Homo sapiens: one gene and its partners. The protein of the gene in region 1 interacts with the protein of each later gene in a pairwise test. Each region holds a gene or a part of one and is shown in the gene's direction. Other genes may lie near its edges.

Evidence for each region. The genes of interacting proteins can lie anywhere in the genome.
Region 2: the proteins of ANKRD36 (region 1) and TMEM132D interact in a two-hybrid assay, tested with the Homo sapiens proteins (one large-scale study listed by BioGRID).
Region 3: the proteins of ANKRD36 (region 1) and EVI5L interact in a two-hybrid assay, tested with the Homo sapiens proteins (one large-scale study listed by BioGRID).

Annotation. Positions count from the first base shown.
Region 1 is NC_000002.12:97,119,357-97,123,543, forward strand, and holds part of ANKRD36 (ankyrin repeat domain-containing protein 36A), read left to right. Parts: intron 1-3,530; coding exon 3,531-3,637; intron 3,638-4,187.
Region 2 is NC_000012.12:129,897,526-129,901,025, reverse strand, and holds part of TMEM132D (transmembrane protein 132D precursor), read left to right. Parts: intron 1-3,500. UniProt on the Homo sapiens protein: Regulate neuronals morphology via inhibition of the WAVE regulatory complex (WCR), a complex that controls F-actin cytoskeletal dynamics.
Region 3 is NC_000019.10:7,857,718-7,861,217, forward strand, and holds part of EVI5L (EVI5-like protein), read left to right. Parts: intron 1-473; coding exon 474-614; intron 615-2,843; coding exon 2,844-2,972; intron 2,973-3,500. UniProt on the Homo sapiens protein: Functions as a GTPase-activating protein (GAP) with a broad specificity.

The DNA of each region.
Region 1 (4,187 bases):
TCTACTCTCAAGTCCAGAATGTCTTGATGGGCAGGTGGGAGATACGGAGCTTATAAATAGTAAAATCAAGTTGGATTTTGAGCTTACTAGTCTCTTCCCTACCCCTACCCAGGAAAAGTAAATGAAGTCTTCAGTGAATGGCTCTATCTTTTGCTCTTTCCTCTTTTCGGCCAAATCCCAAACGATAAAGGGAATTTGCCACGTGGGTGAGAAATGAGACTGAAGTGATTATCAACTGTGCTGGTTCGCAGTTAGAATTGTGCATGGCAGTAACCTGGGGAAATTAAAAGCAAATCTCTAAGTCTAGGATATCCCCTGAAGATTTTAATATGGTAAATCTAATATTTACTATTAAATATTACTGGGCATGTATGTTTTAAAATATTTCCTTGAAGCTGGGCATGGTGGTGCCTCTAGCCAGAGCAACAGATTAAGACACTGCCTCTAACAGCAACAACACAACAACAACAACAACAATAAAACATTTCTTGGGACACTGATACGCTGCTGGTTAAGAACCACTGAATAGATAAGTGTAATATAAATTCCCATATCTCAAACACACAAAAAATCTCTAGAAGAGCTGGAGATAGGTGCTGCTTCCTTTAAATTTCTCCTTTCCAATAATATTGGCCTGACTTTTACCTGTCTCTACCTCTGTGGTTGGGAAGTGGAAAGGACTATTATTTGCAGTATCTATCAGCATAAGAATAACACCTTTTCTTTGCCACCATCACTTATTCACTGCCATTCATAGGGTCATTAGAAATTTGCTATTGTGGACTCTTTTAATAAGTAGAGACTGACTCTTTCAGGACTCTGAGTCTCTTTGTTATCATTCTGGTGATTAGGTCAATACATCATTATTAAAAGCGGGGTTCTCTCAATTACAATAGCAAAAAATTCTAAACCTTTTTTTAAAGCTGAAGCTCTATTATGGACTGCCTCAGTATGTCAGTTAAGTACATAGAACTGTGGCATAATCAGGATAGCAGTTTTAAACACTGAAAACCATGAAGTTAGTAAGAATACAAAGAATACATATAGGTCATTATTAGAGCTTTAATTGATAAGCCATTGTATTTTTATTTCTGATTTATATTTTCCCTAAAATAAAAAAATTAGGTTACAATATAGAAACTAGAATTATAATTTAATATTATTTTAATAATTTAGTTGCAGCAGTCTTATGAACTAATTATCCATTTGGTGAACAATCTGGGAAAATTAAACATAAATTATAAATGAATGAATGTTGTAAAAGTGCTCAAAGTGGGTATTATGACTCTTAGTAACAATTTTTATTGTATTCTTGGGCCTATTTTGGAAAAAAAAATCTGAAACTAAAGAAAGGAAGTATTTTACATGAAAATACTTGTGTTACATACAATTGCTTGGAGACATATCCATAGCAAATATAAAAATACAAGGTATATAGTCCAAATGTGTCCCATACATGTGTTTAGTTTGTGTCTACAAATTGTCTCAACATGGAAGGTTTAGGAGACTCGTGCACAGATCTGGATTCCAGGCTTCTCTTCAAGAATCCAATCTGGTGTCCCTTGAGCCTATCTCAGGTTTTGGATGCTGTGCAGAGGTTGCCCCTTTCTATGAGGCATGTGGTCTCCATTTTGCTACTGTGCCTACCTAGGTACTTCACTTCCTCAGGTCATCTCCCTTGCCTCTGTAGGGATGACTTTACAAGCCCTGTTTTATAATATATTTTAGTAAATATTTCAAGGTTTTTAAGACATTTTATATTTATTTAAATGTAGAGTCTATATTTTATATAAATCCTTTGGTAATCGGGTTGAACTTTTGAATTTAGATGGTGGTGTTTTATAAACTATTTTTCTTTATACATACCATAAATAATCATCTTCCCATTAGAATGCATGTAAGCTTTTTAAGGTGAATCATGGTATGGTTGCATAGGTTATGCATATTGCAGACAACATTATATTTTTCTCTTCAGCATTGCCTCCTAAAAATGCAAGTAATTGGCCGAGCGCAGTGGCTCACGCCTGTAATCCTAGCACTTTGGGAGGCAGAGGCAGGTAGATCACGAGGTCAGAAGATTGAGACCATCCTGGCTAACACGGTGAAACCCCCTCTCTACTACAAATACAAAAAATTAGCTGGGTGTGGTGGCACACTCCTGTAGTCCCAGCTACTCGGGAGGCTGAGGCAGGAGAATTTCTCGTGCTTGAATCCGGGAGGCGGAGGTTGCAGTGAGCCAAGATGGCACCACTGCACTCCAGCCTGGGCGACAGAGCGAGACTCCATCCCAAATAAATAAATAAATAAAAGATGCAAATAATTTAGTGGCTTTCATTATGCTATAAATAATTCATATAGGTCATTATTAGAGCTTTAATTGATAAGCCATTGTATTTTTATTTCTGATTGATATTTTACCTAAAATAAAAAAAGTAAGAATTAATTGGAAACTAGAATACAAATAGATTTTTAAAGGAGTTATGTACCAGGGTCCTAAGATTATAATTACATAAATATTTGCATCAGGGTCCTAAGATTGTAATTGAGAATAACATTTCATACAGAGCTTTCTGACAGCTAAGATAAAAATATTACTAGAGAAAACCCATGGACTATTTAATAATAAGCAGTGAAAGTTCACTCGAAGCCTATCTCTATTAATTCAGAGCCCGGCTCTCCGAATTAAAAAGAGATAGGCTTCAAATGAACTGTCAATCGTGTCAGAATCTCAGATGACAATGTCAGGTGCTCAGGTGCTCAGGAGCTCCTGACATTGTCACCTGAGATTCTTACACCATCGATAGAAGAGAATGAGGCAAGTGTGTATCACCCAGAGGAAACCTCTACCTTTACTGGTAAGCTCTCACAACTGTATCCCTGAAACTCTCATTTCTCAAATGTTAACATTCTCCAAAATAAGTATTTACAAATAGGGATTAGGTGAAGTTCAAAAGATTTCTCAAATACTAGACACATAATGCAGTTTTGTAACATTTTTCAAACATGGGTGATCATGGAGTCTCTCTTTTGGGGTATAATGTTCAAATTCTGGTAAAGTAAATATCCTTTGGAATATATTAATAGTTTAAGAAACACCGCTCTATAGATAATAATTTAGATCATTAATAAAAATACCTGAAACATTTATTACTGTGTCTTAGAGTTTGAGGACATAGAGAAAAAAATACAGCTGCTGCCCTCAAGAAGCTCTTGGTTCAGGTGGGAAACAATTAAATCCTTGAAACATGCCATGCTAAATGCTGGGACAGAAGCAAAGATTCTTGGAACTGGGAAATGTTTGAAGTGAGTTTTGGAGATGACCAGAGTTCTTGTGGTGAGGCAGAGGAGGTTGTTTCCAGGGGAAGGAGCAGAACATAGAAAAGCACCGAGGAGGGAAAAGAAAGGGACTACCTCTTATGACCTTTCAATTGTATATATTGAAGCTCACAGGATCTTACTTACATAAGGTTTTCAGTTCAGTTGATAAATATGTAATTTTGTGATTATAAATTGTTGCTGTTATTTTACAGTGTGAATATCAGCCACTGTTATTTGCTGTGAGTCGAAGAAAAGTGAAAATGGTGGAATTTTTATTAAAGAAAAAAGCAAATGTAAATGCCATTGATTATCTTGGCAGGTACAGACCTTAGTTCTTATTGTGTCGTTTTTAAACCTGAGTGTCATTTTAGTGTGGTAGCAGTCCCTCAAGTCACAAATATTACATTAATAAGAAGACTAACTTGTAATTATTGGGATATAGTGAGAAATAACACAGATCATCACTTAGGTAGGAAAACAATTATTTGGACTGAGTAACATAAAGAACAGTGTATAGCAGGATTCGTCTCTCTCTATAGACATTATACACATAAAAGGCTTCTATATATAGAAAGCTCTGTATATTGATAGATGTTTGTTATTTGTAATATGATGTGGTGTTATTTACAATGTAATAATGTGATGCTTTTGATTGTATGATCTTACATTAGCTAAAGGGGTTTCATGTTAGTTTTTCATTTCTACTGTGTTTTGATGTTGTTTTTAATTGATATGGGGAGGGGGAGAAAAGATAGCTTTAAATGGATAAAACTTTAATGAAGACAAGCTTTAGGTTCACACAGGACTGGGTTTAATCCCTAGCTTTCCCACTTGCTAGATGTGTGACCTTGGTAACATTACTTATTGCC
Region 2 (3,500 bases), on another chromosome or scaffold:
TTAATACCAGGTTAATATGCTTGAGCCTTACACGTTTATATTTCATAAGCAGAAAATGATTAGTTATAGAACAAACCCACCCTCTTGTAGATATTTTTTAAAAACAAATAAACATAAAGTTTTGTTGCTTGTATTTCTATGCCCCTGGGACCTAGGAAGTATGGTATGACACACGGAGTTTCCCCAGCAGCCTTGTCCTATGGCCCCTAATTTTTCTGGGGAATGGCCTTAAATGTTTAAGGTCTAGCTTTGCTGGCAGCTTGATGTAGTTTGCAATGGTGCTAGCCTGCAGATGAGCTTTAATGCATTACTGTGAACTTTATGGGAGGGGGCAGGTGTATGGAGGGTGGGCTGAGAGGAAAAATGGGTGAGGAGATTGGAGTTGGGCAGAGGGCAAGGTGATTTTTAAATACAAAGTCAAGAGGGTTGCCACATTTAGGTTGCTTGTTACAGTCCTCACGTGCATCCTTCCCAGTTATGTTCCCTTGCACATGCTGGTAGGAAAGAAGCAGACGCTGAGAGACCTGCAACATTGCGAGCGGGGCTGCGGCAGTGTCGTGCTCCCTGTGCCTAGGGTGGCGCTGGGCACGTGCTCTGCCTGCTTCCAGCTGAGTGCAGCCAATGGCCTGGGCAGTGGGCTTCTTGGAGCGCCTTCCTGAAACTGCTTCCATATGTAGAGCTTCTGGCCTCTAATAATATGCTGAAACGGATGTTTAATACTTGGTAATATTCTTTTTCAATCAGCCCCAGACAGTTTAGGCACTTTGCATTGTCTGTGTGTGGTGTGTCTGTGTGTTTACTTCCAATTAAAATCCTGTTAAATATAGTTCATATTCGATTTCCAGCTGGGTGAGAACTTTCAAGGGATCAGAGAATCTTAGAGGAGAGGTGATATGAATACATTGCGACATGAACTGAACTGTCCCTGAGCTTATAAATAATATCTGCATCATGAAATTCCATTTGACACAATTTGATGACACTGGGGTGTTAATTGGGTCAGAGTGAAGCTTCTGGGTAGGACAGCACCACCCTTATTGAAGGAAGCTGTGGACCAAAAAGAGCTTCAAAGTACAGTGATAACTTCTTTAGGGGTCAGGAACTTTTTGGGAGAGGAAAGAATATCAGAAGGGAGCCAGTTAGTGGGGGAGAGAGAGAGTGTGGCTTTTTGCTTACATTCAAATTCTGTCAAATTGAAAAGACAAAGAATGAAGAGACCACTAAGTTTTGTTTTGTATGAATTAAAGAGTTAAATCAAAATGTGATTTTATTAAAAATATTTATGTGCATAGAAAGGTAGAATTCCAAGTTTGAGGATCTGTTTAACTTAGTTATATTCTAAGAGCCAAGAAAAAATGAGTAAACAACAAAAATTTCAAAAATATTTTATTATAGAAGCTATGCTACACAATATTTAGAATTTATCTATCAATTTTTCTGTTAATCCAGGTGTTATCCGTCTTTCCACCCATGTATTCACCCATCATCCCATCCACCCATCCATCCACCCGTTCATTCATCCGTCCATCCATCCATCATCTACCCATCCATCCACCAGTCCATCCACCAGTCCATCTACCCATCCACCCATCCATCCATCCATCCATCCATCCATCCATGCATCCATCCATTATCCACCCATCCATCTACCAGTCCATCCATCCATCCATCCCTCCATCCATCATCCATCCATCCATCCATCCATCCATCCATCCATCCATGCATGCATCCATCCATCCATCCATGCATCCATCCATCCATCCATCCATCCGTGCATCCATCCATCCATCCATCCTTCCATCTGTCTGTCTGCCCATCCATCCATTCATTCATCATTCCATCCTTCTATCCACCCATCCTTCCATCTATCCATCTATCATTTCATCCATCCATTCATCATTCCATCCATCTGCATATTCATTCAACAAATGTCAAAGGCCACATGCCTTCAGTGAACACAGAGCTCAGCAGGAACTATTTCTAAGTGTTGTGAGGACACAGGACAGGTACTAAAGCGTCCTTAGGTAGGGATGTTTAGTGCCAGTCATTCCTCTAGATGTCAAAGTGCCTCATACCATTACTCCGTTGCTTTAAGTTGTAAGCTCAGACCTGGGCAGTTTCGTATTCATCATTCCCCTCTTCCTTTGTTCCCTCTCCTTTCCTATTTCATAACAGTAACTGCCTTCTGAGCACCAACAATGCACCCCATACCGTGCTGGGCACAGGGAGTACCGTAGTGAGGAAAAGCACAGGTTGATATGGTTACTATTCCCAGAGAACTTGCCATTTGTAGGAGAGATAGGGGAACATGTGAATTACACAGAAAAACATAAAGTTAGCACTGTGGGTGTGCTCTGGAGGATGGGGCGAGTGTCTCTGGATGCAGATAATTTGGCAGTTGACTTAGAGTAACTGGGAAGACTCGCCTTGTCTGAAGGATGGGCTGGCGTTACCGGATGGACTGGGAGGATCCCAAGTGATCCACATAATCTCCCATCTTGACTTAGTCACGTCGCCTTTTAACATTTCCAAATAAAGTAACCAACATTCCCATATTTCAGGGATTTGGATGTGAATATCTTTTGGGGGAGTGCACTTCTGCCTTTCACAAGGTTGACATTCTACAACTATTTTCTGCCTCCTCTCCTAAATTTTAAGTTCTTCTAGGGGACAAAAAAATGGGTATTTTTTCTATCTCTGATTTCTCTCCAGTATTTTTAGCTTTGTGCTTTGGACATTGCAGGGGCTCAATACAATTTTTAACTGTGCTTCCAAGAGTGTGAAATATTGCTGGAAATCATTTACCTGACAGTGCAGTGGTTTGATGCTGCCTTTTCCAGTAATTCAGAGCGCCGCAGGAAATACTTTGGTCAATAATACCAGCTAATGTTTTGAGTAATTGTTGTATGGCAGGCACTGTGCGGAGTGACTTATGAGGATAATTTTTGTGAATTTGCAGATAAACTCAATGGGGTAGATATGTACTGGACCAGAAGTTGAAGTTCAGAGATGTTAAGTAACTTCTCCAAGTCATAGCAACATAAAAGACAGGCAGAGTCTGAATTCTGATGCCAGAACCCATACCCCTGGCCATTCTGCTGACTTCTGATAATTATATGGAATAACTAAAAACCAGGCGGTTTGTCAGGCAGAATTGTTACATGGTGCCAGGCTTGCCAGGGGCTGAGTGCAGAGAGGTCTTGAGACCATTTTAGTTTTTAGCTCAGAGCCTGGTATACAGATGACCCTTGATATTTGTTGAGCAAATGAATAAATGAACATCATGTTATTTAGTTTTCTCAGCATTATTTTTTCCAGCAGCAATCAGAAATAACACCTGAAAGGGATTAAAATGGGGATTTACTTCCAAGACCACCAGGGAGGTAGAAGAGATTCTCTGATGGTGTGGAATGGTTTGGTTATCTCCTAGGTCAGCTTCTTTTTTGTTTTTTTTATTTTTATTTTCCTCCTCCCCCACCTCCCTAGGTCAAGCTTCTTAA
Region 3 (3,500 bases), on another chromosome or scaffold:
AGCTCCAGGCAGGTGGAGGCCCCAGAGCCCAGGACTAGAGAAGATGCCGCTGGGAGAGGTGAATGCCCTGGGGAGCCCAGCCCTCTCCTGCCGGGGCCTCAGCTGTCCCCAGATCCTCACCCTCACCGGCAGAGTCTGGCATGAATAGGCACAGGTGGCCTCGCTGTGCCCCTGGATAAGGATCCCAACTGGGGCAGAGACTGAGAGCCAGAGTGGGGAAGGAGATGGAGCTTTCCAAGCCCAGGGCTAGCTCTGTTCCTCCCGGGCTCCTCCAGGTGTCCTATTCCTGCCTGTCACCCACCCACGTCCCCAGGCCCAGTGGGACGCTCATCCCAGGCTCTGAGTACGGGAGGCCCCCACCTCACTTCCCCCCACCTCCACTCTCTGGGCCTCCCCCTGTGGCGGGAGGCAGGGCCTTGGGTGGGAGCCGAGGGTCACGGCCTCCCCCTGCCCCCTGTCCTCGCTGTTCTCAGGGGCAAGTGACACGGGCGCAGGAGGCGGAGGAGAACTACGTCATCAAGCGGGAGCTGGCGGTGGTGCGGCAGCAGTGCAGCTCGGCGGCCGAGGACCTGCAGAAGGCACAGAGCACCATCCGGCAGCTACAGGAGCAGCAGGTAGGGGCGGGTGTGCGGGGCTGCTGGGCGGGGCCATGACCCGCGCCCCCGCCCCCGCCCAACGGTTTTCTTTCAGGGCTCATAATCTGCCCCGCCTCAGCACCTGGCCCTCCTGTTCCTTTCTGGGGTAAGGGGAACCCAGAGACAAGCGCAGATTCTCCCCCAGCAGCTCCACATTCTGAGACATCCTGATATCCATTTCTTGCCACCTCATAGTGTGTCTGCAGTATCTGACTTCCCAACCCCCAGCCTCAGCACGGAGGCCTCTGAAGACCGGGCTGTCCCTGCAGGGTTTCCTCTGTGTCACAGGCAGCAGACAGGGCTGTGACTCCTTACGGAGGCTCTTGCCTGTCCCCAGGGTCTGAAGGATTGTTAGGTGTCCCTGGGGGGCCAGCCATGGAGAATGGGAGCAGGGCAGTCCGGGACTGTTTGGGGAGCTCTGAGCCAGCAGGGTGGGGCTGAGGGGGCACCTTGAGTGTCTTGAGGGCCATGAACTTTGGGTCCCATGATGGGCAGGCCCATGAGTGGGGCCCCACCCCAAGATTTTCTTCTCCTGAAAGCTTTTAGAACTTAACTGCGACCTGGTGCAGTGGCTCACGCCTTAATCTCAGCACTTTGGGAGGCTGAGGCAGGTGGATCACCTGAGGTTAGGAGTTCGAGACCAGCCTGGCCAACATGATGAAGCCCCATCTCTAATAAAAATACAAAAATAAGCTGGGTATGGTGGTGCGCACCTGTAGTCCCAGCTACTCAGGAGGCTGAGGCAGGAGAATCACTTGAACCCGGGAGGTGGAGGTTGCAGTGAGCCAAGATGGCACCACCGCACTCCAGCCTGGGTGACAGAGCAAGACTCCATCTCAAAAAAAAAAAAAAAAAAAACTTAACTGCAGCTGCACTCAGCAGTTGGCCTTCCTGATCGCAGGGACCCCCAGTGGCTGCAGTCCTAAGCCCTGCAGGCCACAGGGACACATGCCCTGGAGGGGCCGGGAGCGACGCTGTAGGTCCCGCTGCCATCCTGGCCTGACCCAGCAGGGCCTGGCAGTGGGGTGTAGGTTGGAGAAACCATGGAGTGCTTGAGAAAGAAGAGCCATCCAATACAGAGGTGCCCCCTCCGCCCCCAGGCCCAGAGACTGTGGCTCAAGCCTTGGCCCAGGGATTCTAGCGGATCCACTGCTCCTGGGGAGAAGGAGAGCTTCACTGTTTCTCACTTGTCCCCATGAACCACATCCGTATGATGCTGGCGTTGTGGCCCTCAGAGTCTGTGAGCACTCTTGTCCCACCTTGCTCTGAGGCAGCATGGACATTAGGGAAACTGAGGCTGGGCTCATCCCACCCACTGCATGAGGCCGCCTTTCAGGCTCGTTAGAGAGACTCCACCAGCCACCCCTGAGCTCCAACCTTGGGGGGATGCAGAGATCGGGGAGGCCCAAGGCCACCTCCTCAGGCCCAAAGGGAGGCCACTGCAGGCAAGATGAGGTGGCCCAGAGGAGCCACATGGGGCCTGGAGGCCATCTGGGCCGAGGCAGAGCCACCGTCACACGTGGATCTCAGAGACCCACAGGAAGAGGATGGTGGCTGGGAGGGCTGAGGCAGTCCCCCAGAGAACTGTCCTGCCAGGCCACAAGGTCAGTGAGAGGGAGCCCGGCTCCCACCCCAGGGACCAGGTGTCCTTTTTCAGGTCCAGGTGGCAGTGTCCATCACTCCAGGGGCCCCCACTGGGGAACTTCTGAGAAGCCAGGGCATGGAGCAAGAGGGTGATACCCACAAACTCTTTCCTCATCCTTCCCTGATTTGAAATGGAGGGTGGGATGCAGAGGAGAGAGGTGGAAAGACAGGTGCACAGCCCCAGGCCTCTCCCCCACCCCCTGCCTCGCCCACCATGTGGCTGGAACGGTGACCACCCAGCAAGAACCCATCTCCCACCCTCACCAGTGATCCCGGAAAACCAGTCACTGGGGTCCCGCGGGGCATCCGAAGGCCAAGGCAAGTCACCTTTCAGAATGTCCCCTCTGTGCAGCCTTTCCAGGAAGGAAGCTGGACCGGGCCAGCTGCATGGATGCCAGGACCTCTAGGCCCTGAGCATCAGGGGGTCCAGCCCAGGACACCCCAAGCCTGGGCCCCTCTCCCTGCTGAAGGGCTCTGGGGAGGCGGGGAGAAGCCAGCAGGCATGGAGGCTGCCCATCCCCCAGCCATGGCCTGGGGCCCCACGCAGCTCTCTGCCTCCCCCAGGAGAACCCCCGCCTCACAGAAGACTTCGTGTCCCACCTGGAGACCGAGCTGGAGCAGTCGAGGCTGCGGGAGACGGAGACACTGGGGGCCCTTCGGGAGATGCAGGACAAGGTTCTCGACATGGAAAAGGTGCAATGGGGAGGCAGACGGGCAGGTGTCGGGGGGACCCTGGGGCACAGGAGGGGTCCTGGATAAGCTTTGGGAGTGACCCCAGGTCAGAATCCCCCACCCCCATGCACACACAACCATACATATGCACACACACAGCACAACCCCACGCGGGGCATGCCCACGCTCCTGTATGAGGCAAACTCCAGCAGCGTGGCAGCTTCTATGAGCTTCCCGGATACCTGCATCCCACCTGTGTGTGTTTCCCCCAGTACTGGGTTCCAGGAAGGAAGGGAGGAGAGAGGGGGATGGGGGAGGGGGACAGGAAGGAGAGAAAGGAAGGCCCAGGCCCATTGTGGCTGCCTCCCTACACATTCCCATGCAGACACCATCCCAGGGCTTCTGGGTTCCTCCCCAACTGCTCTCTGACTTGGCATCGACTCCACTCTCCCACGGAGCTCCCAGAGGAAGGAAAGCACCCAGGGACCCATTCACACATTCAGCAGGAGCCATTCCCCACCCCCTCGAGCCTGCACTATTTTGGGAGTC